Homo sapiens: one gene and its partners. The protein of the gene in region 5 interacts with the protein of the main gene of each other region in a biochemical or structural test. Each region holds a gene or a part of one and is shown on either strand. Other genes may lie near its edges. The genes, in order: UBE2D1, UBE2D3, FOXO3, CCNB1, ANAPC11, ANAPC2 and ANAPC4.

Evidence for each region.
Region 1: the proteins of ANAPC11 (region 5) and UBE2D1 form a complex in vitro, tested with the Homo sapiens proteins (6 studies listed by BioGRID).
Region 2: the proteins of ANAPC11 (region 5) and UBE2D3 form a complex in vitro, tested with the Homo sapiens proteins (2 studies listed by BioGRID).
Region 3: the proteins of ANAPC11 (region 5) and FOXO3 form a complex in vitro, tested with the Homo sapiens proteins (one study listed by BioGRID).
Region 4: the proteins of ANAPC11 (region 5) and CCNB1 form a complex in vitro, tested with the Homo sapiens proteins (one study listed by BioGRID).
Region 6: the proteins of ANAPC11 (region 5) and ANAPC2 form a complex in vitro, tested with the Homo sapiens proteins (one study listed by BioGRID).
Region 7: the proteins of ANAPC11 (region 5) and ANAPC4 form a complex in vitro, tested with the Homo sapiens proteins (one study listed by BioGRID).

Annotation. Positions count from the first base shown.
Region 1 is NC_000010.11:58,337,788-58,342,030, reverse strand, and holds part of UBE2D1 (ubiquitin-conjugating enzyme E2 D1), read right to left. Parts: intron 1-4,243.
Region 2 is NC_000004.12:102,816,809-102,821,051, forward strand, and holds part of UBE2D3 (ubiquitin-conjugating enzyme E2 D3), read right to left. Parts: intron 1-4,243. UniProt on the Homo sapiens protein: Accepts ubiquitin from the E1 complex and catalyzes its covalent attachment to other proteins. In vitro catalyzes 'Lys-11'-, as well as 'Lys-48'-linked polyubiquitination.
Region 3 is NC_000006.12:108,563,502-108,567,744, reverse strand, and holds part of FOXO3 (forkhead box protein O3), read right to left. Parts: intron 574-4,243; exon of another isoform or gene 196-573; intron 1-195. UniProt on the Homo sapiens protein: Transcriptional activator that recognizes and binds to the DNA sequence 5'-[AG]TAAA[TC]A-3' and regulates different processes, such as apoptosis and autophagy.
Region 4 is NC_000005.10:69,173,650-69,177,892, reverse strand, and holds part of CCNB1 (G2/mitotic-specific cyclin-B1), read right to left. Parts: intron 3,643-4,243; coding exon 3,484-3,642; intron 3,017-3,483; coding exon 2,780-3,016; intron 2,497-2,779; coding exon 2,356-2,496; intron 2,070-2,355; exon of another isoform or gene 1,966-2,069; intron 655-1,965; coding exon 544-654; intron 370-543; coding exon 262-369; 3' UTR 1-261. UniProt on the Homo sapiens protein: Essential for the control of the cell cycle at the G2/M (mitosis) transition.
Region 5 is NC_000017.11:81,897,522-81,901,281, reverse strand, and holds the end of ANAPC11 (anaphase-promoting complex subunit 11), read right to left. Parts: intron 2,041-3,760; coding exon of another isoform or gene 1,740-2,040; intron 1,363-1,739; coding exon 1,217-1,362; coding exon of another isoform or gene 1,132-1,216; 3' UTR 1,027-1,131; downstream 1-1,026. UniProt on the Homo sapiens protein: Together with the cullin protein ANAPC2, constitutes the catalytic component of the anaphase promoting complex/cyclosome (APC/C), a cell cycle-regulated E3 ubiquitin ligase that controls progression through mitosis and the G1 phase of the cell cycle.
Region 6 is NC_000009.12:137,182,061-137,186,303, forward strand, and holds part of ANAPC2 (anaphase-promoting complex subunit 2), read right to left. Parts: coding exon 4,164-4,243; intron 3,028-4,163; coding exon 2,853-3,027; intron 1,732-2,852; coding exon 1,612-1,731; intron 1,183-1,611; coding exon 1,065-1,182; intron 1-1,064. UniProt on the Homo sapiens protein: Together with the RING-H2 protein ANAPC11, constitutes the catalytic component of the anaphase promoting complex/cyclosome (APC/C), a cell cycle-regulated E3 ubiquitin ligase that controls progression through mitosis and the G1 phase of the cell cycle.
Region 7 is NC_000004.12:25,411,532-25,415,774, reverse strand, and holds part of ANAPC4 (anaphase-promoting complex subunit 4), read right to left. Parts: intron 2,131-4,243; coding exon 2,033-2,130; intron 1,452-2,032; coding exon 1,390-1,451; intron 1,310-1,389; coding exon 1,271-1,309; intron 1,177-1,270; coding exon 1,075-1,176; intron 376-1,074; coding exon of another isoform or gene 369-375; exon of another isoform or gene 310-368; coding exon 235-309; intron 1-234. UniProt on the Homo sapiens protein: Component of the anaphase promoting complex/cyclosome (APC/C), a cell cycle-regulated E3 ubiquitin ligase that controls progression through mitosis and the G1 phase of the cell cycle.

The DNA of each region.
Region 1 (4,243 bases), on a different chromosome or scaffold from region 5:
GCCAGAAATAAAACCTGTCCTGCCTTCAGACACATGTGCTAAGGTGGCCTGAGGACCTACCCCTCCAATTCCCAAACTGCAAATATGGTCATATTATATATTCTAGTATCATTTATTCCAGCATTTCACAGGAGAGGAGAGAGGATAAGTATCTCAATTCCTGTTGTTAATTCAATGTAATCAGTTTATTCACTATTAAAAAGGCAGGGACTATTACATTAGTAGATGACCATTAACTCAGTTTTATGGCTAAATATTAGGTTTATCATTTCTATTAGTAGCACTCATTAAATGAAAATAAAGGGCCCATATGTTTTCTATGCGTATTTCAGGGAACTAAAGCGAGTAAGGACGCTATTTTGCTTTCCTGGAGGCAATCCCACATCCTGCTAGGTTTGGTTTTCATATGTGCCTGGCTTCTTAAAATAGGCATAAACAGCTTTATTTAGTTCTAGGCTATTTATTTCCACAGAGAAGAAATCTCAGAACTTTTTAACTGTCATAGGTTACCTCATTTTTTTATACCTCTATTGCGATGAAGAAAGAAAAATACAGTATCAAGGACAAAAGAAAGACTGAGCTTAATTACAAAGATTTAAAAAAAAATTTACATCGTGGCTTATTAGAGAAAGAACACTATCTCGCTCTCATCTCAAGGAAAACCATTTATCCCAAAATGCATAAATACCGTGCTTCTTTAAGTTGTATCATTCTTTCTAGAAAGAACTGGAGTCTTGGATTTAATCTCATAATATGAACAGTTTACTACTCAAAACCACTACAGGAACTAAATGACTCTGTCAATTCAAAAAGTTATCTCAAATAAAAACTTCACAATGCAATGATACTTTTGACAGAGCATTTATGAACTACAACCAATGTTTCAAAATCCTTTTGGAGGAGAGAAATTCAAAGTGATGAAACAAAGATGATCAAAGTTATATTACTGATTTACAATGTTAAACGATCTCAGCATGTGTTACTTTGGAGCAGAGATTTGCGAAGCACAATCAACACATTTGAGCAATGTGTCAGTGAAAATGATCAAATATGCCAAGGTCTTAATTATAACACCACTTTACATTTGTATAGAACATTCCAGTTTGCAAAGCACTTATATCCCATAAACCCATTTGACTCTATGTCTTCCAGTTTAAGTACAATAGATACGAGTTCATGTGGATAAGAGAAGCTATGTACTGAAGTGGTTAAGAATATGGAATTACATAAGACACATTAAATTTAATTTTGCTTGCTTCTACTTCCCGTTTTAAAAACGTGGCTACTAGGAAATTTAAAATTAAAATGTAGCTCACATTGTATTTCTATTGGATAGCATTGTTCAGTCAGTTTATTGACAGATTTTATTTGCTATCCTAGGGGGCACAATCATTGGCATATAAAAAGATTAAGACAAGGAAATAACACTCTCTCCACTAAAGGATTTGACATTTTAAGTGAAGTGTCACAGGTTCAGTAATAATATTACAGCCAAGCTTAAAAGCAAAATAAAAAGTAAAGTCATACAAAACTTTGTCAGGGAATGTGGCTGTTCTCTTCTATAAACAGATTACTGATATTAAATTATGGAAAGTGATTTAAGAAACAATGTTACCATCTTTAAAAGCCCACAAATTTGCTCTGCTGAACAAGGAGGAAAATGCTCTGCCCATGGTCTGGTTTCTAGAACCTGAATGTAAAGACAGAATAAGGCAAGTAGTACTCTGATATCGTTTACTCCTTCATTTTACAGAGAAAGAAAATGAGTCTTAGCCTGACTAGGTGGCTTATCCAAAATGTCATCATTTCAAAATTTAATCAATATAAAAATGTTTATAAATATCTCATTAGTAACAATTATTTAGATTTGTATACTAGGTCTTCAAATTCCAGTACATATTTTACACTTCAGCACATCTCAATTTGGATACTAAATTTTCGTCAGCAATATTTGATCTATATTTAGATTTCATAAAGCTCAAGGTTGAAAACTAAATTTTCATACCCAATTTGTTTCCATGTGGCTACTGGCTACATTAGACAGAAAGCTTTATAGTATATCTGGTGAGTTCAGTAATCTCAGTGAATGCTCTCTTCAACATCCAAAAACTATCATTCTCTCCTAAGAAGTGGAAGAGAAGGATCCTTGACTCTCTCTTCAGATAGGCAGTTTGGTAGCTTTCAGTAGCGATATGTAACTGCAACTATTTTTGTGTTAACTGGGCATGAGAAGGTATTAAATAAAAGATTCTAAGACTGAAAAAAAAAAAAAGGAATGTGGAATTGAAGCCAACTGTTTGTTTTGGAATCGTAGCATTGTCACTTACTAGATAATGTGATCATGAGTAAACTACTCAATATTTCCCTGCCTTAGTATCATCATCTGTAAAATGGAAATAACACTGTTTCTACCTCTTGGGTATACTAAGAATTAAGTCAATTAATATATGTCAAGTACTTAGAAGGCAGAGTAACGATTACAAACACCCTGGTTTTTGAGATCAGCAGCCTCATATGTATGGATATCCATACATATCCATTGTATGGAAATGTATGGAAAATATGTACTAGCCTCATTGTACGAAGCTAGTAAGCCACACAGCCAGGAATAAAAACCAGACCTTTGGCTGCGTGAGGTGGTTCACGCCTGTAATCCCAGCACTTTGGGAGGCTGAGGCGGGTGGATCACCTGAGGTCAGGAGTTCGAGACTAGCCTGGCCAACATGGTGAAAACCCATCTCTACTGAAAATACAAAAATTAGCCAGGTGTGGTGATGCAGGCCTGTAGTCCCAGCTACTCAGGAGGCTGAGGTGGGAGGGTCACTTGAGCCTCAGAGGCAGAGGTCACAGAAAACCGAGATTGTGCCACCGCATTCCAGCCTGGGTGACAAAGTGAGACCCTGTCTAAAAACAAAAAAAACTCAGACCTCCTTCTTCCATTTGATGCTCCGTCCATAGAGGGCTGGGTTAAGTATCCTAAAGTTTTCTAGACTGACATAAACAGTTTAACATAAAATTCTACAAATCAAAAAAATTCAGCAGCTCAAACATTTATCAAATTTGATTTTAATCTATGTCTCTCTATATATGTTTCAGATTACATTGATTATTAAAAAACAAAAACAACTAATGTTCCATTTGGGGGCCAGAATTACACACTAAGGAATAGTTCTCTGAGTTGCTATGTTTGTAAAACGGAACTCTATTGCCTCACTTTTCAAAAGACAAAAATGTAAATAAACTTATCACATCACATCACATCACATCACATAATGCTAGTATGATGTTCATTACCTCAAATTCTTTATCAAATAAAATCTATGATGATGACAATGACTGTTTTAGGATTTCCTTTTTTTTGCCCTTTAGTTTTCAAAACATTTGGTATTGGGATATTAACACCTGTAATTTAAAAAATAATCCTCCCCAAAAAAAGTGTTTCAAGTAATGAAAATAGTATTGATAGAAGAAACAACTTAGAAATTACTTCTAGAAAATAGATACCTAGGTGAAAAACTGTCCTCCTCTTTTCAGACATGTTTTAGGTATCTTTCCTTAGACTTTGTTCAAACTTTTTTTCTTTTAATGATTTAGGTGACTGCGATAACATCTTTCACTGTTATTTAAAAATAGGGCATGGGTGTGTAAATTTATGAGCTGGAATGCAAAACTGGCACACTAAATCAGAGCATTAAATCATTTAGTATATTCTAGTATAGTTAGTTTATTCTACTATAAAAATATATTTTAAGCATTGATATCTCCATGCTCTGTCTTTACATATAATTTTAATCCAATCATCTTTATTCTTTTTCATAGTGAAGAAATGTGAAATCATGAACTTTTTAACACTCTCAAATAGCCAAGCCAATTAAGAGATTATTGGCCGGGTGTGGTGGCTCACACCTATAATCCTAGCACCTTGGGAGGCCGAGGTAGGTGGATTGCCTGAGCTCAGGAGTTCGAGACCAGCCTAGGCAACACGGTGAAACCCCATCTCTACTAAAATACAAAAAATCAGCGGGGCATGGCAGCATGCGCCTGTAGTCCCAGCTACTCAGGAGGCTGAGGCAGGAGAATTGCTTGAACCCAGGAGGCAGAGGTTGCAGTGAGCCGAGATCATGCCACTGCACTCCAGCCTGGGAAACATAGCAAGACTCCATCTCAAAAAAAAAAAGAGATTATCTTTGGACAAAGCACTCCTCCACTCCAGGCCTCTGGATCCTTCCTTGAATAAGGACAG
Region 2 (4,243 bases), on a different chromosome or scaffold from region 5:
ATTCATAGGAACATTGCCTTTTTGGTGCCATGCATGTTAGGTATAAAAACACCAAGATAATTAAGATAGAAATGCCTCCTCAGACTCAGCTAACAGAAAGCAGGTGCAAGACAAAACAAAAATTATACTTTAACAACCTACATGCTTAAAATAAAGGGACTCAAATGCTCTGAGAATCCTGAAAAACCAACCACTAACTTTTCCTGGGTTTAGAGGAGTGCCATTTGAGCTGGCTCTTGATGGAAAAATAAGCAGGCATTTACCAAGAACAAGGAGTGAGAGAAGCATTCTAGGTAGAGAAACTCAAAGTCAGGAGTGTCAAAGAACACAGGGCATAAAAATTTGCCAGAACAAATACTGCAGAGTTTGGTATACCAGACAGAGTACACCAGGAGAGTGGCAGATTTAGCTAAAAAGGCAGGTTATGACTTGATCTTTTAAAAGAGCCCTTGAATTTAGTCAGACTATTCCAAAGGCAATGGGAAATCACTGATGGTTTCGAAATAGAAGACAAATGAGTTTTGATTTTTAAATATACTAGCAGTCGTACACCACAAGTGTTTAACTGTACTCTTATAACCACTTTACGGAAATAGAGCTCATCTTCTCTGTTTTACAGTTGAGTCCCTTAAGAGAGGGGAAAGAAATGATTACATTCAAGCATAGAACATGTTCAGCTTTAGGATAGGTGAACTAAGTGTACCTACTAACAACTTAAAAATTTGGACTAGGGGTAAGTTTCAAAAAGGTTCCTTTCTCAACAGGGTGTCCTTGCAAAGATAATTTAATGTTTGGCAAACTGAGGGAAAAAAATTCTCAACTGCACCAAACTATTACTCAATGCTCCAGAATGAACACGATATGGAAAACTAATGTTTTCCTTAGTATTTATTTCCGCATAACCATCCACCGTTAGTCTGTATCTCATTATTCGTACGTAGTGTGAATCCAGTACTATTTTTCAAGTTACATGGCCTGAGAAAATGATTCTATCCCACAGCAAGACTATTTACTGGACTGGAAATCAATTTCCAACGACACCCATACTCAGCATTTTTAAAAGTAATTTTGTCTACGATAGTCACCTAACAAAATGTTTTTAGAGCCTAAAGTTTCACAGGCTTCAGGGACAAAAACACTAAAAAATTACACAATTGAAATTTTCAGCTTATTCCTTCCTAGCAGTCTAGAGGAAGAGGAACAGTGCCAAGAACCAGAAGGAACAGCTCTCACACGGCACCTGTAAAATTTTTTTATACTGTGCTGACTACCCCTCACCTAAGGGGAACAGCATTACTCAACTATTAAGGCCACTGAAACAGGAAAATGTTTGGTTGGGGACACTGACTTACTTTAGGAATTGCTCAAGGTTCCACTCACGTTGAAGGGACACTAAGATCAAGCACATACAATCAGGGTACAACACTAAGAAACTGTACTAGCTATAAAAAGAACAAAAGGTTGGACATTTCTTTTCCACAGAGTGCTCTTTTAGGAAACTTTCTCCTTTTAGTGTCATCTTCCTCTGAGCTGCTTCTCCTCAAACTTTCTGCACACTTGGCTAGTGTGAGAATCCAGACCTTCTCACTGGAAAAAATACTTGTATTTAAAAGCCTTAAAAAACCTATAGGAAAAGAAGTCAAGGAGACCCCTCTGCCTTCTTTCTAAGCTAGGTAAATGAGACCCTCTCAAAGCTCTCACATGGTCTAGTTCGCCTCATTAGTTAAAACACTACAAAGAAATTTGAGACAGCAACAGACTTTACACAACTGAGTTGTTTGCCTATTTCCTGAAGACCTGGTGGGCACCATGGTAGAAAATAGGGCAGGATTTTTTTCACCAAAAAAATCTCTCTAAAAGGCAACCAACAGGTACAGCTTAAGCCACTGGTGAGTGTTCTCATCTGGAAGTACATGATTTAAGCAGTAATGGGTTTGGTCACTATTTTTTTTTTTATTCTGAAACATTCCTTACATGAGATTTTTAATACAAAGCCTGCAAATGGTTTATCTTGAGGAAGACCTTTACTGTAGTCACTATGGGATATGGGATTTAACAGTTGATTGTTGGAGATGTTAAACTATGCTTTCTGCTTCTCTATTCTCTATCTTCCTCATTCAATGATAAGTGGTACTAGCAGTGGTGACCAACCACAGGCTACAAAGAACAGTAGGCCAAGGTATTGAAAACATTAAAGACCTGAAAGGATGCTAGGAGAAACATAAGAATGTCCCCTCCCTTGCTGGGCGTGGTGGCTCACGCTTGTAATCCTAGCACTTTGGGAAGCCAAGGCAGGCGGATCACCTGAGGTCAGGAATTCAAGACCAGCCTGGCCAACATCGTGAAATCCCATCTCTACTAAAATATAAAAATTAGCCGGGCATGATGGCGGGTGCCTGTAATCCCAGCTACTCGAGAGGCTGAGACAGGAGAATTGCTTGAACCCAGGAGACGGTGGTTGCAGTAAGCCGCAGTTGCGCCACTGCACTCTAGCCTGGGCAGCTGACCAAGACTCCGCCTCAAAAAAAAAAAAAAAAATTCCCTCCTTTCAAAGAGCTTATAAATTGGAAATACTAAAAATATTTATTCACAAATATTTATGAATATTATGAATATTCATGAAGCTACAGAGCAGCCATGTTCCAGGAGCCCAATAAGTATCTGAACATTCGGTTAACTTTCTTTCAATGACAGCCAGTATCTGTTCATCAGATCAACATAACCAAAAGGTAGCATTTATGAAAACAAGGTTTTAAGTGTCAACCCTATTAAAGCGTAACGCCATAAATAACTTATTCTAGGTTTCATCCCCCCAAGGCTTGTCAAAATTCAAAAGCCTATATAGTGGCAAGGCCAAGTTCATGGATTCTACCTTTAAGACAGTAAAATTATCACCACGATGTTCCACAAATCATTTGTTATCCCAATCTCTACCATCTATTTTGCACGTCATCACACAAAGGTCATACAGAGGACAGAACGCAGTAGTATAGATACATTTCCTCTCAGCACTTTCCGGAAAACTAAAAGCTTATGCCATTACTAAAGGTTAATTTCTTGTATTCTATTTGAGAGTCTATTTCTTTCAGAACTAAAGACAAGATTTACATGACTCAAAAGACAAGATTTGTATGACTGTGAATCAGCATTATAAAAACAGCCCTTGCCTCAAAAACCTATACTGAGCAACACAAAACACTGCTTTGGGGACTGGAAGAGATGATAAAATGAGGTGGGAAACAAAGGGAGTAAGTGCCTTAAGAAATTTTAAGAATCATCCTCAAGAAGACTTTACAACCAACCTAGAAAAATACAAAGGTGCGAACCAACAATAGAGGTCGAAGTGCAGTGCAATTAGCTGTCCATCAGGCAGACAGTAACTACTGTAACTGTTCATATAAAGATCTGGTTTACTATAAAGTTTTATTAACTTTAATGTTATGAAATGTCTGTATAAAATATGTAGATGCGAATATCAAGGCAGGGAACAACAAACTTCAGAAACATGGTTATTTCAAGAGAAGGATGCTTGGCAAAAAGATATGAACAATTTCACAAAACTCCAAATAGTCCCTTTAAAACACATTTTAATTTGAAATTTCTTCTGAGAAATCCTTTTTTATCTTAAGGTTTAACAGTAGGCACTGCACAGTATCTCACTGCATCACTGACAAGGTATTAACTTCCTGTTTAGTCGTAATTATAGGTGAAACAAGCATGCGTGTTCATTACACAAGGTACTAAGAATGGATTGAATATTACTAATTTTCTTTCGATCACCACTGAAGGTAAAGTCACTTAACATTATTCAAAGCCATTCTTTTGTAAGCATTATTTAAAAATGGGCAAAGAAACCCAAATTTAGATTTGAAGCTCTGCTCCATGAAAGCAAGAAGGGTGTTTTATGGACATTAAAACAAACAAAACAAACAAACAAACAAAAAAAACAAAGATTAACAGCCAAACAGCTGCCCAGTAGTAGAAAACATTCAATTACACATTAGCCATGAAATTACAGCAAGGTTAGGATTAATGTAAGTATTTCATACTGAAAAAGGTACAAGAAATCATGATTCACAATTGACAAACATTTAAATACGACAAATTCAGCTATGAAAAGTTGAAGGTCTCTTTTACAATAGATTATGTTGAAAGTATCATTAGGAGATAAAAATCAGATGTTTCAACAAAGTATAAAAATACTTCCCTAAACTTTTCCCTTCCCTACATAACAAGGTTGAGG
Region 3 (4,243 bases), on a different chromosome or scaffold from region 5:
AGAGACGAGGTCTCACTTTGTTGCCCAGGCTGGTCTCAAACTCCTGGCCTCAGGCAATCCTCCTGCCTTGGCCTCCCAAAGTGTTAAAATTATAGGCATGAACCACTGCACTGACTGGACACACCCGTTACTCCACCCCTACTAGCTGTGGAACCCTGAACCCAGTCACTCACATAGTCCTAGCATGTTTCTCACCTGCAAAATAAGGTAGTTAGATGATCTTTAAGATCTCTTTTAGTTCTGAGTTTTAGGCAACAAGTAATACAGATGAGTCAGTGGCATCAAGGCTCCACATCCACTCCAGAGGAAGGCCAGATCTACATCAGGCCCTGGGAGACAGAACTGGGGATCCCAGATCAGTCCAGGGCCAAAGATGTGCTCTATCTAATCCAGGTGGAGCTTGGAAAACCAAAGCTTCTCCCAAACAGACCCAATCCACAGGAGCCATGGTACGGTGGTTTTGCATCTCCAAAGCAAGCTCAAAATGATCTGCAGAGAGTTAAAGGCTAGCTCCAAGCCATGCCCCACATCAAATTTGCCACTTCCCAGCAACTTCTTAGCAGAGTTGAAGTACTAGAGAAAGCAGAAATACAGATGTAAAAAAAAGGCAACGGGAATAGGCAGCAATGACAAATTCACAAAGCACAGATATGCTATAGCTTATTTTCTGTCTCCTCCATCAGAATATGAACTCCTGTGAGTGAACTGGAACTTTATCTGCCTTCTGCTACCACTATATCCCTAAGTCCTGGCAAATGCTCTGCAAGCAGCATGCCTTTGATAAACATTTGTTGAATACATGAAATGGGATGTGATGCAAATGGGTAAAAAGGGTTTTCTCTTTCCAATCTTTCATTCACTTACTGTATACCAGCTGTAACATCCACTGATATCAACTCGTCTTTGCATTTATGATCCCCAGCTCCTTTTATAGCACCAAAAAGGTAAAGTGGCTCTTCAGGACCCCTCAATTTGTGATGCAGGAAAAGGAGAGAAATGAGGAGTTGAGAATAGGGTCAAGTCTGTCCCTATAGGCAAAATAAGTGGGTATACAAACAAAATAAATTCCATATTCTCTCCAGCCCTGGGAATCTGGAATCTGATGCACCTGCTCTGGGTAAGTGGGGCAACCTGCCAGAATGCACAGGCCTAAACAGTCTTTAAAAAAAAAATAAGATGGGGTTTTGCTATGTGCCCAAGCTGGTCTTGAACTCCTGGGCTCAAGCCTAAACAGCCTTATCTTTGCATTTTCATGAAGATCTTTGAATGGATGGTAAACTTTTGCCAGACCAAATTAAATGACTTATTAGTGAGACAAGGCCTCTTCATTAATTTTCCAAATAAAAGTATCTTGCAGGTTTTAAGTAAGAATCACAAGCAGAGTACTAAGAAGTTTAACTAAAAGATGTTCTTGTATGGTGTCATTTTCTTAAAATAGAACACTCCTAAAATCTCCTAAAAATAAGTCTGCTGTAGTTTCATTTCATTTTCTAAGAAGGAGATAAACATATCAAAACACACACTTAGCTTCTTTTTTAAAGAGTCTCTGTTACATGGGACTCACAGATCAAAGTCTAAAAGGGCCAATTTCTTCACTTCAGAGGTCAATGACACAGCTTTGAAAAAGAGGAAAAACAGTCCCTCTAGTGTACTGGGGCTGTAGAAAGAGGAAGTATATTAGTTGAGAATCACTGACGAAGACACTATTGCCAAAGGAAATTACAAAACGACATTTTGGCAACACGGGCCAAGCAGACAGATTCTTCACACACGACCATAACTGGCCTTTTGGTGAGTTACTCCAAAAGGTGACTGAGGTCAAAATTATGAGCCAATGTGGAATGATTATGACTTAGTCATTTTCAAATTAAAAAAAAATTTAAAACAGAGTTGCAGTTAAAATAACATTTTCCTAATACAGTGTGTTGAAAAGGAACTGGATGTATTAATCTAAAGAACAGAAACAGTGAGGACACAAATAAGCATTATGTGACAGGACAGCCCTCATCTTTTTATCTTGGCAAGAAGCCATAACAATACACATTCTTACATGAAAGAAGACTCGGACTCTTGAAGAATTATCTTCTGCAGCAGCAGCAGCAGCAGAAATCTTAACACAGTATCCCCCACACTTGTGAAATTATGGGAACCACTACAGAAACTCAAGTCTGCCTAATTTGATTACACCCTGACCCATGGGAAAAGCAGATGTGTGCTGTGTATAACGAAATAAGTGATAGATAGGCCTTACCAGGTAAGCCCTGGCGTCCTTAGAGGTCTCCCCAAGACAAGAGGAACTGAGAGAACTCACTTGTTCAATCATGGGTGCAGTGCAAGCTTAATCTGAATTAAAGGAAATGTAACCTTTTCCCCTCTTAACCACATCTGATTGTTCATTTCTACTTTAATGCCCGAGGTAAGGGAACCTGTGAGATAGTCATCATCCTTCTCCCTGACACAGTATCTGACAAATGTAAGTAACCAAGGGCTTCCTCTTTTTGTTAAAATGCTATCCTTCTTACCTCTTTTATCACTTCATAGTTCCTAAGTACCCCTACTGACAGGCACTGGACAGCTATGCAAACATGATACACTCACTCAGCCTCCATCTACATTTGCCCATCCTTTTGATGCTGAAATAATAAGCAAGATGTTTTTAGATTGAGAGGCAAATAAGCCTTTCAGGAAAGCAAGCGCTACTTATGTGAGACTATCCATTACCTAGCAAATGACCTTTTAAAAAAGATCAATTTAAAGAAGAAAATGGAAAACAAAAACCTCTAGAACTGTGGCTACTAATTACCTCTCTACTAACTAGCTGTGTGATCTTAAGAAAGTCATTAGCTTTTCCAAAAATCAGGTTTTTCACCAGTAAAATAAGAGGGTTGAACTAGATCAGAAAACTTCATCCTAACTATACATTAGAATCACCTAAGAAACTTGAAAAAAAAAAACAAAACACAAAACCATCAATGCTAAGCCACACACAAGCCAAATTATATCAAATTCTCTGGGTATTTGTATTTTTCAGAAGTTCCCAGGTAATTCAAACATGCAACCAGGGCTGAGAACCACTGATTTAGATTCTGATCTCTAAGTCCTCTTTTCTAATTCTTTCATTTTATGATGTTAGGGTGATAATTTTGGTTACAAGGTCTCATAATGCAATGGCCCAAATAGCCTGAAAAGAAGTAAGGCCCTGCATACCGTGCCCTTTATGCACACATGACTAGGAGACGTTAACCTGAATTCTAGACATTTTTGGAAGTTAAAAATCCTCTTACATTACTCAGAATGAAAGTAGTGTGGTTTAAATGCACATGCGTGCTTCCAAAATGACTAATCATGACAAGAATCAACTCCTAAACTTGGACACTTGGAAATGGGTCACAATTAGCTCCTGATCTCTCCCTTTTCCCTCTTCTTCCACTAAACCACAAGCACACACAAAAAAAGGTTGCCTATTAGTCATAATCAAAATATAAAACCAGCTCCAGTTTCAAAGGGCCTTCTCCATCATCAAAGATTTGAAAGTTCCTGCATGGCTGCATCTTTTGATGAAGATCATCTTATAAAAACTCTAACAAAATTATATCCCTTTAGTCGTCAAGGATTAGTTGTCATGTGACACTCAGAAATGGAATTGGTAAAAAATTTTAAGGTAAAAGAATCATAAAATGTGTGCCCTGTATTAAGCATATTAAGCCTTGAGAATTTCAATTTACAGTATTTTCTAAGATTTTAGTTGAAGAGAAATGAGATAGCAGAGAAGGGTAAAAAAAAAAAACCATAAGACAAAAAAACGATGACATAAAACCATAAAGTTTATGACTAGTCCCAAAATCTGTATTGCAAGTCCTACAAACTATATGAAAATGTATCTAGCCCAATCTCAATTCGCGGCTACTTTTGGTAATACCATTATCTCATGTAAATCTTCCCCCCAAAAATAAAGTTCATTAAACTTATTATATTTAACTATAAACAAAATAACAAGAAATATTTGTGAAATTAAATTATTTTTGTAACCTTAAAAATCACAGGAAAGGTGAAAACGCCTTCCTACGTTAACGTTTTAACTAAGTTTAAAGTTAACTAACTTTTCACTAACGTATTCTCCTCACCAAATTCAAACATGCAAGACTAAATTTCAAGTGAGAGAAATCTGAAAAACATTTCGAACCCCCAAATCCATGTTCTCAGATCCTGTCCGCTTACGCCTTCCTGATACTATACACTGATT
Region 4 (4,243 bases), on a different chromosome or scaffold from region 5:
AGAACCCAGTATATAAACATATACATCAATTGGATCCCCAGGTAAACCAAAAGGAGTTTTTAAAAATATCCCCACCATACCTTTTAAGACAACTTTTCCGCTACCCTACAGTAGGAAGTAACCACATTCAAATTAGTTAAGCTATAAAAAAGTAAAAGGGGCCACAAGCTTTATTAAAAGTAAATGCAACAGTAATATGTACAGATGGCACATGGTGCCAATTTTATTTGTAAATATAGTACTCCAACTCAAGTTTACAAGTTACACCTTTGCCACAGCCTTGGCTAAATCTTGAACTAGTGCAGAATTCAGCTGTGGTAGAGTGCTGATCTTAGCATGCTTCGATGTGGCATACTTGTTCTTGACAGTCTGGAAGACAAAAAGATAGCAATTAAAGAGGCAAAAGAAAAAAAATCACAAGATGCAATGATACAGGTATTCATTTAAAACATTAACTCATTAAAAATAAACCAGGCATTTGCAGGCATTAAGTTTGAATTATTACACTTTTCAGCATCTTACAATGCCACTATATTGACTCACCATGTGCTTTGTAAGTCCTTGATTTACCATGACTACATTCTTAGCCAGGTGCTGCATAACTGGAAGAAGAGATTCTTCAGTATATGACAGGTAATGTTGTAGAGTTGGTGTCTAAGGCAACAAGTTAATGTTAAAAATGCTCAAATCAATAATGATTTTCATAAAGTTTCTAGATGTTAGATGTTATTCAGGAGTGGAAAAGAGATGGGTACTGTATAATTAATATAACTGAAATTTAAGACAAAGCTAAAGACTCCTTTCCTAGGTGCTCTCATGCTTCCTCTGCTCAAACCTAATTGCACTTTTGTAATTGCTGACTTGCCCACCCTAAAACTAGACTCCACTTCCTTGAGGCCAACTTTGTAATTTTTTTTTTTTTTGAGATGGAGTCTCGCTCCAGGCTGGAGTGCATGGTATGATCTCGGCTCACTGCAACCTCCGCCCCCAGGTTCAAGTGATTCTCCTGCCTCAGCCTCCTGAGTAGCTGGGATTACAGGCGCGCACTGCCACACCTGGCTAATTTTTGTATTTTTAGTAGAGATAGGGTTTCACCATGTTGGTCAGGCTGGTCTTGAACTTTTGAGCTCGTGATCTGCCCAACTCTGCCTCCCAAAGTGCTGGGATTACAGATGTAAGCCACTGCACCCAGCTACATAGTTCTATTCTTAAGACCTAGGGTAGGCCGGGCACAATGGCTCACGCCTGTAATCCCAGCACTTTGGGAGGCCAAGGTGGGCGGATCACGAGGTCAGGAGATCAAGACCATCCTGGCTAACACGGTGAAACCCCATCTCTACTAAAAAAAAATATATATATATATATAAAATTAGCCGGGCGTGGTGGCAGGCACCTGTAGTCCCAGCTACTCGGGAGGCTGAGGCAGGAGAATGGCATGAACCCAGGAGGCGGAGGTTGCAGTGAGCCGAGATCACGCCACTGCTCTCCAGCCTGGGCGACAGAGAGAGACTCCGTCTCGAAAAAACAAAAAAAGACCTAGGGTAGTGCCTGTCACATAGGAGAAGCATTTGTTGAATCAATGAATATGAATGAACTACTAGTATGTCATTTGACCTTCAAGTTTCTCCATCTGTAAGGAGTAAAAGTTGCTCTACCTTTCTCAAAGGGAATAAAGTTGAAATCAGGGAAAGAAATGGAAACACTCGACTGGTTGCAATGGCTCACGCCTGTAATTCCAACACTTTGGTAAGTGGAGGTGGGTGGATCGCTTGAGCCCAGAGTTTCAAGACCAGCCTGGGTAATATAGAGAGACCCCATGTCTACAAAAAATACAAAGCTCAGCCTCCAGAGTAGCTGGGACTACAGGCGTGTGCCTGTATATATATATATATATATATATATATATATATTTTATATATTTTTTGTAAAGATGAGGATTTGCTATGTTGCCCAGGCTGGTGGGCGACTCTTTTGTAGTTCATAAGTGTGATGATTTGGTGTTCATGTGAACATGTGAAACGTGCCACCCTCAAACCTTGTTACAATGTGGGCATATTACCCATCTGACATGAAAAAAATTTAAAAACTAGACAGACACCTGTAATCCCAGCTACTCTGGAGGCTGATGTTGCAGTGGGCCAAGACTGCACCACTGCACTCCAGCCTGAGTGACAGAGCGAGACCTTGTCTCAAAAACAAAAAGATGTGGAAACATTCTAAGACATCTTTTTTAACTATTCCTTCAGTAGATCCCATATTTATGAACCACTTGAATTGCCTTTTAATAACAAAAGTTCTGTATTTAGTCACTCTTTAAAATTTAAAAGCTTAGGAGTTCTGTGGGACACAGCTTACCCATTCACCATTATCCAGAATTTTCAGTGCTAAGCAAAAAGCTCCTGCTGCAATTTGAGAAGGAGGAAAGTGCACCATGTCATAGTCCAACATAGTTAGTTCCATCAGGTATTTGGCCAAAGTATGTTGCTCGACATCAACCTGAAACAAAACCCATGTTACTGAGTTTCTTTCAGAAAATTTTCCTTTGGCACTAACCTGCATGCCCATATGTATCTTTAACTACAAATGTTTGTCTACAAACTCTCAAATGCCCATGGAAAGTCCTAATATTAACATGCAGCCTGACTAGAAATAAAGAACAACTTTATCCCTTCCCCATGTAGTTAGGTATAATACAGGTCAGTTGAATTCAACGTGCTTGGTCAGCAGCAGTGTTCCCCCTAATGTACCCATACGGAGAGGTTTCTCAAGAAACCTGTACCTCTCCAATCTTAGATGCTCTCCGAAGGAAGTGCAAAGGTAGAGGCCGACCCAGACCAAAGTTTAAAGCTCTTAGAATCTTCATTTCCATCTGTCTGATTTGGTGCTTAGTATAAGTGTTGTCAGTCACAAAAGCAAAGTCACCAATTTCTGGAGGGTACATTTCTTCATATTTGCTTGCAATAAACATGGCAGTGACACCAACCAGCTGCAGCATCTTCTTGGGCACACAATTATTCTGCAATGGGAATTTCAATAGGGTGAATAAAATGTTTGAAAAGGAGACACAGAGCTATGATGAAGGAGAGGTAGAAAGACATTCTCCCATAGCAAAATCTTAATGACACCATATCCCCCAAGAAAGATTTTAGTTGAAAAAGTCAGTTTATTTCTTTCTTTTTTTTTTGAGTCTCGCTCTGTCACCCAGGCTGGAGTGCAATGGCGTGATCTCAGCTCACTGCAACCTCCGCCTCCAGTAGCTGGGACTACAGGCGCCCGCCACCATGCCCGGCTAATTTTTTGTATTTTTAGTAGAGACAGGGTTTTACTGCGTTGGCCAGGATGGTCTCGATCTCCTAACCTTGTGATCCACCCGCCCGCTGGGATTACAGGCATGAGCCACTGCGCCCAGACTGGCCTGAAAACATCAGTTTCTTATGACTCGGCTAGAATCCTGGAAGGGAAAACTCTTACTGAAATGCTCACCTGCATGAACCGATCAATAATGGAGACAGTCATGTACATGGTCTCCTGCAACAACCTGAATTTCATTTGAACCTGTACTAGCCAGTCAATTAGGATGGCTCTCATGTTTCCAGTGACTTCCCGACCCAGTAGGTATTTTGGTCTGACTGCTTGCTCTTCCTGCAAAAGAAAATGCTGATTATTCTTAGAAACATGACTCCATGTGACACATTTATGTCCAGAAAGATCAGTTAGTTCCTACAGTAGCACTGGGGCATTTATAATCTATATCAGTTCTTAATTCAATTATTCATATGGTCAACCACAAACAACACCATCACCAAGAAATAAAGCAAACATGAAGGCTGGCGTGGTGGCTCACGCCTGTAATCCCAGCACTTTGGGAGGCTGAAGTTGGCAGATTGCTTGCAGCCAGGAGTTCGAGACCAGCCTGGCCAACATGGCAAAACCTGTCTTTACTAAAAATACAAAAATTAGCTGGGCATGGTTGCGCACACCTGTAGTTCCAGCTACTTGGGAGGCTGAGGCAGGAGAATTGCTTGAACCTGGCAGGTGGAGGTTGCAGGGAGCCGAGATTGCACCACTGCACTCCAGCCTGGGTGACAGAGTGAGACTGTCTCCCCACCCCAAAAAAAAAAGAAAAAAAAGGCAAACATTAGATAGGACAGTATGACAGCTTTTTTATATTGTCAGGTCTTACGATATTCTTCACCACAACTGCTGCTGGTCCACTCCCTTCCAAATAAAGATACTACATTAT
Region 5 (3,760 bases):
GGATACAAGCAGGCAGAGGAACGTGGAAAGACTAGACTGGCTGAATCTGGCCTCCATCTTTCTCCCATGCTGGATGCTTCCCGCCCTCGCACGTCGGCCTCCAGGTTCTTCAGCTTTTGGACTCTCGGACCTACACCAGTGGCTTGCCAGGGGCTCTGCAGCCTTTGGCCACAGGATGAAGGCTGCACTATCGGCTTCTCTACTTTTGTTTTGGGACTCAGACTGGCTTCCTTGCTCCTCACCTTGCACATGGCTTATTGTGGGACTTCACCTTGTGATCACGTGAGTCAATACTCCCAATAAACTCTTCATATATACTCTTCATATAGAGTCCTGTCTCTCTAGAGAACCCTGACACAGATTTCAGGTGAGGCCTGGTCTACTCCTCAGGTTGCTGTGAGGAAGGGTCAAGAGACACTGGGCACGGGTCACTGGCCCCATGAATGCCAAGGGCTCCCTAGGTTACTGGAGACACAGCCTGTGCTCTGTCCAGAAGCAGCCTGAGATGCCGGGGCTGCCACTCCCCCAGCGGCCCCTTCCCACCACGATTGTGGGGAGCAGAGGCACACAAAGGAGCCTCCCAGGGCCACCTTTCCCTAGGAAGGGAAGCCTCAGACGTGTGGACACACTTCCCAGTGTCAGGACACTGATCCCTACACTGTGGGAGGCCCAGCCCCGCTGCAGACAGTCCCAGTGAGAACAATGGACGCCCACTCAGAGATGGTGGCCTTCAGTCTGGAGGCGCCACAAGCAGTGGCCGCCAGCTTTGCACAGCCAGGGTCCCTCAGAGCCAGCCTGAGGGAGGGTCCCAGGGCCGCCGCCGGCAATCCAGCAGGCAAGAGCATGCCTGAAGAGCATGCCCCAGGCTCTACCGTCTGATCCTGCTCCTTCTCCTCCCAGTCATGACTCAGGGTTTGACGAGGGCCTTGGCGTTTCACGGAGATGTTTATTCATGAGAGTTTTCATATCAAAACACACCGAGACCACATCTATATGCCGAGAACACAGGCACCCAGAGGCCTCCAGCAAGATTTGAGTAGTTTAATGAGTTTTCACTTATTGGATAAAAGTGTCAACATAGTGATGGCAAAACAAACGCAGCTCCAGCCCTTGTTTCCACCTTGTTGCAGCTCAGGGGCGCTGTCCCCAGCAGCCATCGGCGCCAGCATGAGGAAGGAGTCTCAGGATGCCCCTCCAGCGAGAGCCAGGTCGGGCCTCACTCCTTGAACTTCCATTCCTGGCGGCACATGGGGCAGTGCTGCTGCACCTGCTGTGCGTGCAGCCACTTGAGGATGCAATGCATGTGGAAGCAGTGGGAGCACTGGCCCCACACCAGCGGGCAGTCGTCGCCGGGCACCTTGCCTACGGAGGGGAGGTGGGGAAAAGGACAGGCATGACCAGGCTGGACACAGAGCATGTGACAAGCCAGGCAGGGGTGCAGGTAGGGACCCTGGGCAGTGGCTCCAGCACTGCAGCCTCTCATGTTTCAGAGAAGCCGAAATCAGGAGTGTTACCCAATCGGTCTCCTGACCAGCCCGCCCCCAGGCGAAGACCAGCAATGACCAAGGGACACCGGACATGCGGCCTCCACCCGGGGCAACCGCAGCAGGCGCCTCCCCTCACCCAGGCTCATCATGCTCAGTGGGGAGCCCAGGGGCCTCTCTGAGGAGGTGGCGCTCTGGCCTAGCCCACCCTGTGTCCCCTGTGCTTGAGGCTGGGGAAAAAGGGCAATGTCTGACCTACAGGCCCTGGGCCCATCTGCAGACACTTGATCTGTGATGCCAAAAAGGTCACATGAATGGTCAAGGCACCAAGGAGACGTGCATCTGAGTAGTGAACTGGTCTCTTGATCAAGGGCAGGAGGGGTGGGGTCTGGGGACCTAGAAGACTCTTCCCTAGACATCAGGGATCCGGTGTGCTGCCCAGGCGTTGGGGAAGCTGTGTTGATGGGCACCTGTGGATGGGCCCTGCCTCCCAGGACAGGCACAGGCTGCGGGCACCAGCCCAAACACCTAGAAATGCTTTCTCCATGGAGAGGACCTGACACAGAGAGGGATGCTTGTATCAGCCATGATCAAGAGAAATGAGTGTCCCTGATCTCCAAGAGCCTGGAAACCCCTGAGGAACAGCTGCTGCCAACAGAGCACAGCAAGTCCCAGCCCCAGCCCCACGGCAGGGTCGGCCTGGCATTGTGGAGCTGGAGCTCGTGGCCACCCTCCTGTCCTGGCAGCGCCGGCCCCACGGCATGCCCACTCCCAGCCCTGGGAGGACCTGCCCGTGGGGGTTTCTGGCCTCAGCACAACTCTGCTTGATATCGGCCCTTTCAAATGAGAGCTGAAGCCTGCTAGCCCCCTGAGGAGAGGGGTCTGGGCCACTCTGAGTACTCGGGGGAGGCCTCGTTTAGTCAAAGGTGTCACTTCGTTCTAGTGCATTCCCCACCCGAAGCCGGCCTGGGGTGTCTGATGAGTCCGCAGATGCACTGAGGGTGACTCATTCCAGGACCTGCTGGTCTCCTGATTGCATTTTTTTAAATTAAAACTCCTCTCGGCAAAACTGCACTGCCACCAGAGTCCCCTGGGATGCGGGATGGACTCATTGTTTACCAGCCTCGGGCTCCCACGGTCTTTGTTGAATGAACTTAGTCACTCTGAATTTTTCACAGGAGTTCAATTTTAGCAAAAGAAACCTGGTGCTGCTTAGTATGGAAGCACATTGGACTCGTCAAACGCTTTGCGCGTTAACACTGACTCACTATGACTTAACCATCAGCAGGTCCAAAAATTAGACTCTCAACTCCTGAGTCTCTGCAGCCAACAGGCCCCATGTTAACAAAGCCTGAGCACACTGTGTCAGCGGAGACATGCTGAGTGTTCAGGGCAACACCCTCTGGATGCCCCATCACAGGCCCAGCTGGCATGCTGCAGGGCGGGCTCTGCAGGCTGCCTGTGGACCCACCACTGCAGTCACTTGGGGGCTACCTAGCACCACCTCTAATCCACAGGATTCACCACCCACATCTGGCCCACGGATGCAGCCAGACGAGGTGTGGACACATGGTTCGGAGGAATTTCAGAAGTTAAGCTGCTGCTCCAGAAGTCGAATGCCTGCCCTCAGGGCATCCCACGCACTCTTTGTTACATCCTTAAGAGCAATTTAAAAGAGATCAAATAAAACTGTGCCTTGTGAATTTAGTTATTAACCTAATTAGCTATTAACTACAAATCCAATCAGGTAGAGTCAATCAATAATTTCCTAAGATTACACCCTACCCGTTTGATTAAATGAGGATTAATTCCTGAGTGATGAGATTTCTATTTAGCTAGGGCCAATGTAAAAGTTAAGCCTAGAATAAAAAGTATTTGTACGGGCCAGGCGCCACACCTATAATCCCAGCACTTTGGGAGGCTGTGGCAGGACAGAGCCAAGAGTTTGAGACCAGCCTGGGAAACATAGTGAGACTCCATTTCCACAAAAAAAATTAAAAATTTATGTAGTTTTGTTCAGGCATGGTGGCTCACGTCTGTAATCCCAGCACTTTGGTATGCCAAGGCAGGCAGATCCCTTGAGCCCAGGAGTTCAAGACTAGCCTTGGCAACATAGCAAAACCCTGTCTCTACAAAAAATAAAAAAATAAAAAATTAGCCAGGCATTGTGGAGCATGCCTGTGGTCCCAGCTACTTGAGAGGTGGAGGTGGGAGGATCACTTGAGCTGAGGAATTGAAGGCTACAGTGAGCTATGATTTTGCCACACTGCACTGCC
Region 6 (4,243 bases), on a different chromosome or scaffold from region 5:
GAGCTGCGAGCGCAAGGCCGGCCTGCGCACCTGCAATCCCAGCACATAGGGACACTAAGCCAGAAGACCTAAGCCCAGGTGTCCGAGGCTGCAGGGAGACAGGATTCTGCCACTGCACTCCAACAGAGCGAGAGCCTGCCTCAAAAAAAAGAAAAAGAAAAAGAAAAAAGGGCCGGGCACGGTGGCTCACGCCTGTAATCCCAGCACTTCAGGAGGCCGAGGCAGGCGGATCACGAGGTCAGGAGATCAAGACTATCCTGGCTAACATGGTGAAACCCCATCTCTATTAAAAATACAAAAAGTTAGCCAGGCTTGGTGGCGGCCTGTAGTCTCAGTTACTCGGGAGGCTGAGGCAGGAGAATGGCGTGAACCCGGGAGGCGGAGCTTGCAGTGAGCAGAGATCGTGCCACTGCACTCCAGCCTGGGCGAAAGAGTGAGACTCCATCTCAAAAAAAAAAGAAAAAACAAAGAACTGGCTCAGAAGCCAGGCCAGTTACAGCCACAAAGCACCAAAGGAGTCCAGGTAGGGGCCAGACTCCACCGGCTCCTGCTGCTCGGCTCCTGGGGGCCACTGTGCCTGCCAGCCCCGGGCCAGGGCCTCTGCGACCCCTGAGGAATTCCCAGGCAGCCATGTCAAGGTCCTCATCCCAACACATTCTCCACCGAACAGCCCCAGGAGTGTCTGTTCCTTGCCGTGGGAAAGGCCAGGACAGCAGAGCCCACTCCCCTTGCCTGGTCGGCCTTGGGGACTGGTCAGCACCAAGGCGAGGCCAAGTGGAAGAGCTTCTCTCTGTGCTGGAGATGGGGAGGCTGAGGAAGGGCTGTGGTGGGCCTCTGGCAGCTGCACACAGAGGGCACGGTGACACCGTGTGACAAGGACAGGTGCCCGGCACGGGCAAGAGGAAAGGAAAGAGCCTCGGGCCTGATCCCGTGCACTCAGCCCAGCCGGGGGAGACCTTGTGTCCTGACGGCCGAACACACCCTCCGGCTGCCCCCCAGGACCACGAGGAGCTCAGCAGGATGCCCAGGGTCCCAGTGGCTCCTGGGCCAGCTGCAGCCCTCACCTCAGGTAGCGGCGGATAGGCTCACAGGCCACCTCCAGGATGACCATGGAAGGGTCCAGCACGCGCAGCGCCTTGATGGCAGAGATATAGAGGGTGATGATGTCACACGTGTTGACGCCTACAGCCAGGGCAGAAGCCAGCAGTCATGCAGTGCCCGGGACCACAGCCTCCCAGGGGCAACACCCGAGTAGACAGCTGGCCATGCCGGTAGGTGGTCTACAGGTCCCCACTGCAGCCTCGTTCCCTTGTCCCCCCATCCCCACCTCTACCTGTTCACAGGTCCCGCCCTGCAGGGAGGTCTGTTCTGAGAGAACTAAGTCTCATCACCTCAGACCTACCGGTCAGTCCTGACTCCCTCCAAAGAAGAAACAAGCAAGCTGACGGGCACCTCAGATCCCCTAAGGACCTCACCAATTGCTTCTCAACCCATTTCTTCCTTAGACCTACAAGTCCAGGGCTGGCAGACTAGGCCCCAGGCTCCCTGGACATGGGTCCCCTGGTGAGTGTCTAAGCCCAGAGTGCTGGGTGGCCGGGCAGCACACAGCACCTGGATGCAGGAGCCGAGTCTCCAGGGCAGCCTTGAGGGACACGAGCAGCTGCTGCCTCTGGTCCGTCCTCTCCAGGCAGTACTTGAGGTCCTCGATGGCTGGCCGGGAGTCTGGGAAGTCTACAAGAAGAAGAACATCCCTCAGGGACAGACATGGATGCGTGCGCACGTGCAGGCTGGTGCAGAGTGTGTGCGGTGTGGGAAAGGACACGTGCTTGCCAGCCCCAGGACGATGATGAGACCACCTGCTAGGCACCAGACATCCCCCCGACACTCTGGCGTGCTGATGCATTTGACCACAATGCCACAGGGTGGACAGAGCAACACCCAGGGGCCAGTCCCCAGCAGGAGCCAAGGCCAAGGCAGCACAGCAGTGGACACCCAGAAGCACTGTCCAGCATCTGCCACACCTGCCCTGATCCAGGCACGGGGGACGCCGCAGTGGGGACAGTCCCAGCACTGCCCGGTGCACCCCCCTGCAAGAGCGACAGCGAAGGCACAGGGAGCCCCAGACGTGGACACAGGGAGCCCAGATGCAGACACAGAGCCGACATGGCGAAGGCCCTGGGAGCCCCAGATGCAGACACAGAGCAGACACGGCGAAGGCACAGGGAGCCCAGACGCAGACACAAGGAGCCCAGACACAGACACAGAGCAGACACGACGAAGGCCCTGGGAGCCCCAGATGCAGACAAAGAGCAGACACGGTGAAGGCACGGGGAGCCCAGACGCAGACACAGGGAGCCCAGACGCAGACACAGAGCAGACACGGTGAAGGCACAGGGAGCCCAAGACGCAGACACAGAGCAGACACGGCGAAGGCACAGGGAGCCCAGATGCAGACACAGAGCAGACACAGCGAAGGCCCTGGGAGCCCCAGACGCAGACACAGGGAGCCCAGACGCAGACAGAGCAGACACGGCGAAGGCCCTGGGAGCCCCAGACGCAGACAGAGCAGACACGGTGAAGGCACAGGGAGCCCAGACGCAGACACAGGGAGCCCAGACGCAGACACAGAGCAGACACGGCGAAGGCACAGGGAGCCCAAGACGCAGACACAGGGAGCCCAGACGCAGACACAGAGCAGACACGGCAAAGGCCCTGGGAGCCCCAGACGCAGACACAGAGCAGACACGGTGAAGGCACAGGGAGCCCAGATGCAGACACAGAGGAGACACGGGGAAGGCCCTGGGAAGACTCCCCAGACGGGAGAGCGGACCCCAGGGCCGGGGCAGGACCACCTCGGACGATGCTGAAGAGCTCCTCGATGCGCAGGCTGGCGTAGATGCGGTAGAAGAACCTTTGCACGTGGCAGCGCCAGCGGCGCAGGGTGTTGCCGGCCTCGGGAGATGCGGGCCTGGCGGGGCCGTCCTGCAGGAACACCTTGCCGAGCCAGCCGACCACCCGCTCGATCCACTGTCAGGAGAACGCTAGTGTGAGCTGCAGGGAGGCATGGTGAGCCCCGGGCTGACTCAGAGGCTGGGAGGAGCCTCACGGCCACCCACCCTGTCGGCCGGGACCGAGGGGAGCCCGAAGGCCACCTGCGTCTGGAGGCTGGAGCACATCAAAACCTGCAGGGTGGGTGATGGCCCAAAAGGCGACGTCCCGGCCCCCCTGCAGTCTTCGTGCCTCTCACACGCGCCAGTGCCCACACTTATCACTGGCAGCAGCAACCCTAGCGTGAGACATGACAGACACACACGACCTGTGCGCTGTGCCTGGTGGGCACACTTGCCCCCACTTAAATGGATAAACACGCCCTTGAGACCAGCCGGGGGGCCCAGGCGAGCACAAACCTCTAGGTGGCAATTCCGCCGCGGGGCCCAGGCGTGCTCATGCCCCACAGACCTGCTACCCAGTGGCAAGACCGCACGGATGTTCACCCTCTCCACCCTACTACCCACTCTTGCCCACCGCTTTGGGGACACCCTCCCTCTTTGAAAACCCAACATCACAGCCAATCTGCACCTCAGTAGGGGGACTCTGAAACACTGAGGAAAGGACAGGTGACACATGGGAACAGGATGGGGGGACCCACATGGCTGGGCCCAGCTCCCCTATGGCTCCGGGAGCCCAGAGCAGAGCCCCAGACCACACCCCAACAGCACAGGTGCCTGGAGGCCCCATGTGAGGGTGTCTCGCTCCCCGCTGTGGTGCAGGCTGGCTGTAGGTCAGTCCATTAGGGACCGGCCAAGCGAGTCCACACTCAAGTAGGGCAGCAAACAGGAGAAGGGGATCCATTCAGTGGCTCCTCTGGTGGGCCCAGCTTCGCCACACCTGCCTGAGGTAGCCCCCTCGGGATCCTGGCCCGATACCGCCTGCAGCCATGGGATTCTGCGCAGATCCGAAGAGCGCACCTCAGATGCGTCCTCGCTATCACCAGGGCCCAGAAGTACTGGTCTCTACCCCACATCAAGACAGCTCCAGCCACCACCCGGTCTGGGCCCACCCAGGCCTCCGTGCTCTGGATGCTTCTGAAGCCAGGTGTCAGGTTTGCCAGAAACCTACTCCCCTGTCTCCAGCGGGGCACAGCCCAAGGGAGGGGTCCTCACCTTGTGGAACTCACGCAGGAAGGAGCGCTCGTACTCGCCCCGGCAACGGTCCTCCATCCTCTCCCGGGTCACCTGGTGCA
Region 7 (4,243 bases), on a different chromosome or scaffold from region 5:
GGAGTATTAATTATAGGAAACCGTACGACATAAACTGCAGGGCAGTAAGGTTCTATTCAATCACAAGTCAAATCATTCTCTATGTATAAATACACAAAGAATCCTGCCCTTGATGTGGGAAGTGGCAAAGCCCTTTTACCTATATTACCACCGTAACTGAGTCTGATCCTATTCCTAAACATATACACATATCACATGTATCTACATTTCATCCAAACAAGATTCAAGACTTACCTTCTTCTGACTTTTTCTGTTGTGGCATATGTAAAGCTCCCAAATTTAATAGCAATTAGTCCATTACTCACAGATCTTCAAGAAAGAAGGGGGAAAAAAAGAGACTCTGTGGAACAACCTGGATAGTCAATAATCTAAAGGCTTAAAAGAACATGATTGTCAGGGTCAGTACATGTACTTCTTTAGAACACTGAGAACTTGTTTAAATGCCTAGATAGATAAACCAATTTGGTTTAAAATCACACAGTCACCAAAGACATTTGGAATAGAAATAACCCAATTATTTCTTTTTGGTTACATCGTGGTCTCAACATTTTCTTCAAATTCAGGTTTAAAACCATTTTTAAGCTACCAATGGCGTTCTAAATATGATTTATTTTTCAGAACTTCTACTTTCAATTTCAAAGTAAGTCTCTGTTAGGCAAGGCCTCTTGTTTAATGAAAAGCATACTTAACCCTAGGCAAAAATCATTTCTATAAGGCAGCCACTTTTAGAAGTTTTTAACTTCTAAAAAGTTAAAACTTCTTTAACTTTTAGTTTTTCGGAAGTTTTTAACTTCTAAAAAATGAAGTATAATATCCTGAGCTGTCATATTTTTCCTAACTCTAAAAAAAGTCCTACAATGATTATATGCCAATAAAAATTAAATAATCTAAAACAAGATCATATAACTTCCTAATTCAGTGTTACCCTTTTAATGACATGAAAACTAACAATTAAATGACACATCTAAAAGTCACAAAGTAGTTTAAAATCTGAAATGCTGGAAGGCTGTATGCTTCATTCTTACAAATAATAAAATCTTATCTCTTTGATTCAAACTTCAGATTAATACTTACTGAGAAATATCAGTATGTCTCCTTAAGATGCACATTTTATAAAGTGAATCTTCTAGAATAGTAAAAAGAAGATAATGTAGATTTGAAGTTTTATTATTCCACCTAAGAAAAAAAATTGTCATAATATTTTTTAACTATTGATGGATAAAACAAAATTGTATTGTTCACTCAAGATAGGGAAGAAATATATACTTACAGAAAAGGAAATTTGAACAATCTACGTGTAGAATCCTCACTAAAATAAAAGGGAAAAAGAAATGAGAAAAATTTAAATTGGCTGCGGAATTACACCATCCAATAGGTAAACAGAATTACCTTCTGGTATCTCTATACAATGGAATACAGATTGCTTGATTCATCGATTTTCCAATTACATCCTATATAAAATAAGATTTTAAAATATAATTAGAGCGTTAATATGCACACAGATACTCTACAGAAAGTGACTGACCATCACTGTTCGAATGTGGTAAAAAAATCGCCTACATCACCAAACCTTGTACATAAGAAACGTTAATGACAATTGTAACAGTAAGGAAAAAGAGAAAATTCTGAGCTGAAAAGGACCTTGGTGCTAAGCACATGGCAGGTTTAAGACCACCTCCCTCTGGTCTCATAACAACCATTCATTCACATCCTTCAGTAGTAAGCAGAGACACATCAGCTCTGTAACTAAGACTGTTTACAATGAATTTCTTCTGGGAACAAATAAAATACTCAAGATGCCAACACCTTCAGTAATCTTTATACACACACACACACACACACACGTGTGTAAGAAACTTAAGTTGGAGTATTAGGTTGAACCATATGAAATTGTTACTTTTGTTAATCAAAAACAGTTGACTATCAACATTTTCATAGTTCATTCTAAAAATTAAGATCATTTACATAAGTGAGCCACATACTGTAGACACTATTGCTCCTACACAAAGACATGCATTTCTTTCAAACTTACTGCTGGCTTTTGCAAACACTGATCAATAATATTCTCCATCCGCCTTTTCACAAAATGCAATGATTTTCGAGGATAATAAGGAAACAGCAAAGGACTTTCTGGTTTCAAACAAAAACAGAAACAAAAATAAAAGAAGCTATAGCAAACTTATAATTAGAAGAAAATAATCTACTGTTAGAGCCAGTCTGCACAGTTTATCTCGAGGTAGAATTTTCACTGACCACTTCATTGGATTTTCACACAACCTCATTAAAAACGACCATGGTCTTCTGCCTTTCATCAACCCCCGCTGACAGCTCACTAAAAACAATCTCACTTACTACAAACTTAGACTCACCAAAATCCAACTGTAGGTTTCTGCTGGCTATAAGAAGCAAGGAATGATTTGGGAACCATCAAATATATGATGAAATAAAATTCATTCTTCTATTCTTTGCCACAGTGAAACAACAACAGCAGTCCAGTACTGTTTTTTAAGTCTCTAAAACAAGAGACTGGAAACTAGCTCTATATAAATAAGCTCTTTACTTTTTAAAAGGTTACTTTATCAGGAGAAAGTAATATATAATTTAGCACTAACACCTGCTATGCTAGGTGTTTAAAATACCTTTTTTTTTATTGCTTACAATAGCCATATGAAGTAAACACCATATTCTCCAATTTACAGATGAAAAAAAAAATGAAGCTTAACAGGTTTAGGCAATTGCCCAGTGTGAAAATAACTAAGTATCTAGTTCTGTCAATCAAACCCAAGTCTGACTCTAATGCCCACCCTCTTCCACTGTGCTTTGTAGGCCCTCCCTTAGATAAAGCCATGCTGGATAAAATGAACTACAATCACATTAACATTTTAAGTTCTCAAGGTGACAGATGCTATGTTATCACAGAAAAACATTGATCTTTGTTTCTAGTTCCTAGAACAGAGCTTCCAAAACCCTTGGAATTTCCTGAGTGATAAAGGTGACAGGAACATTTTTTTTTTTCTTTTTTTAAAGACAGAGTCTCATTCTGTTGCCCAGGTTGGAGTGCAGTGGTGCAGTCTCAGCTCATTGCAAACTCTGCCTCCCGGATTCAAGCGATTCTCCTGCCTCAGTGTCCCGAGTAACAGGACTACAGGTGCACACCACCACACCCAGCTAATTTTTAGTAGAGATAGGGTTTCACTATGTTGGTCAGGTCTCGAACTCCTGATCTCAAGTGATCCGCCCACCTCACCCTCCCAAAGTGCTAGGACTACCATCTTTTGTTTTAATGAGGCAACTCTTGGCTGGCACCTAGATAGCTTTAGGATAGGGGCTGGCCACCAAAAAGACCAAGCCTTGATTAGAAGTTTGGAAACTTCAGCTCCACCCGCCAGCCTCCAAGGAAGAGAGAGGGGCTTGGAGGTTGAGTTCAATCACCAATGGCCAATGACTTCATCAATCATGTCTACATAATGAAACCGCCAGAAATACACTGGGACAATGAGGTTCAGAGAACTTTCTGGGTGGTGAATATGTCCAGGTGCTGGGAGAGCATGGAAGCTTTGCACCTTTCTCTCCATACCCTGCCTGATATAGCACTTCTATGTGGCTGTTCCTGAGTCATATTCTTTACAACACACTGGTAAACAAAAATTATATGTTTCCCGGAGTTTTGTGAGCCATTCTAGCAAAATTATCCAACCTGAAAGGGAGGAAGGTTCTGGGAACTCTTGACCTTAACCTTATAGCCAAGTCAGACAACAAGCATGGCTACCCAAGAGATGTGGGGACCCAGAGACCTGACATTTGACGCGAGGGCAGTCTTGTGGGACTGCATCCTTATCCTGTGAGGTCTGCGCTAACTATCTGTAATTCGTGTCAGAATTGAATTGTAGGACACCCCGTTGGTGTCAAAATTGGTTGGTGTCAGGAGGAAAAAAATTTCTCTCATTTTGTTGTCAGAAACACTGAGTAAAAAGTGCTCAGACACTAACCTACAGACTGCTTCTGTGCTAAGTGCCAGGCATTAGTCTAAGTGCTTATGTAGATTAATTTATTTAATCTCCACACCAGTTTTTTGAGGGCAGCATTATTACCATCTTCATTTTACAGATGAGAAACTATGGCACAGAGAGGTTAGGCAACTTGCTCTCAGCCGTGTTACTACGAAGTAGTAGAGCAGCTTCCAACCCAGAAAATCCAGCTTTCAGAGCACCAACTTTTACCCACCACACAATACTGACCCATG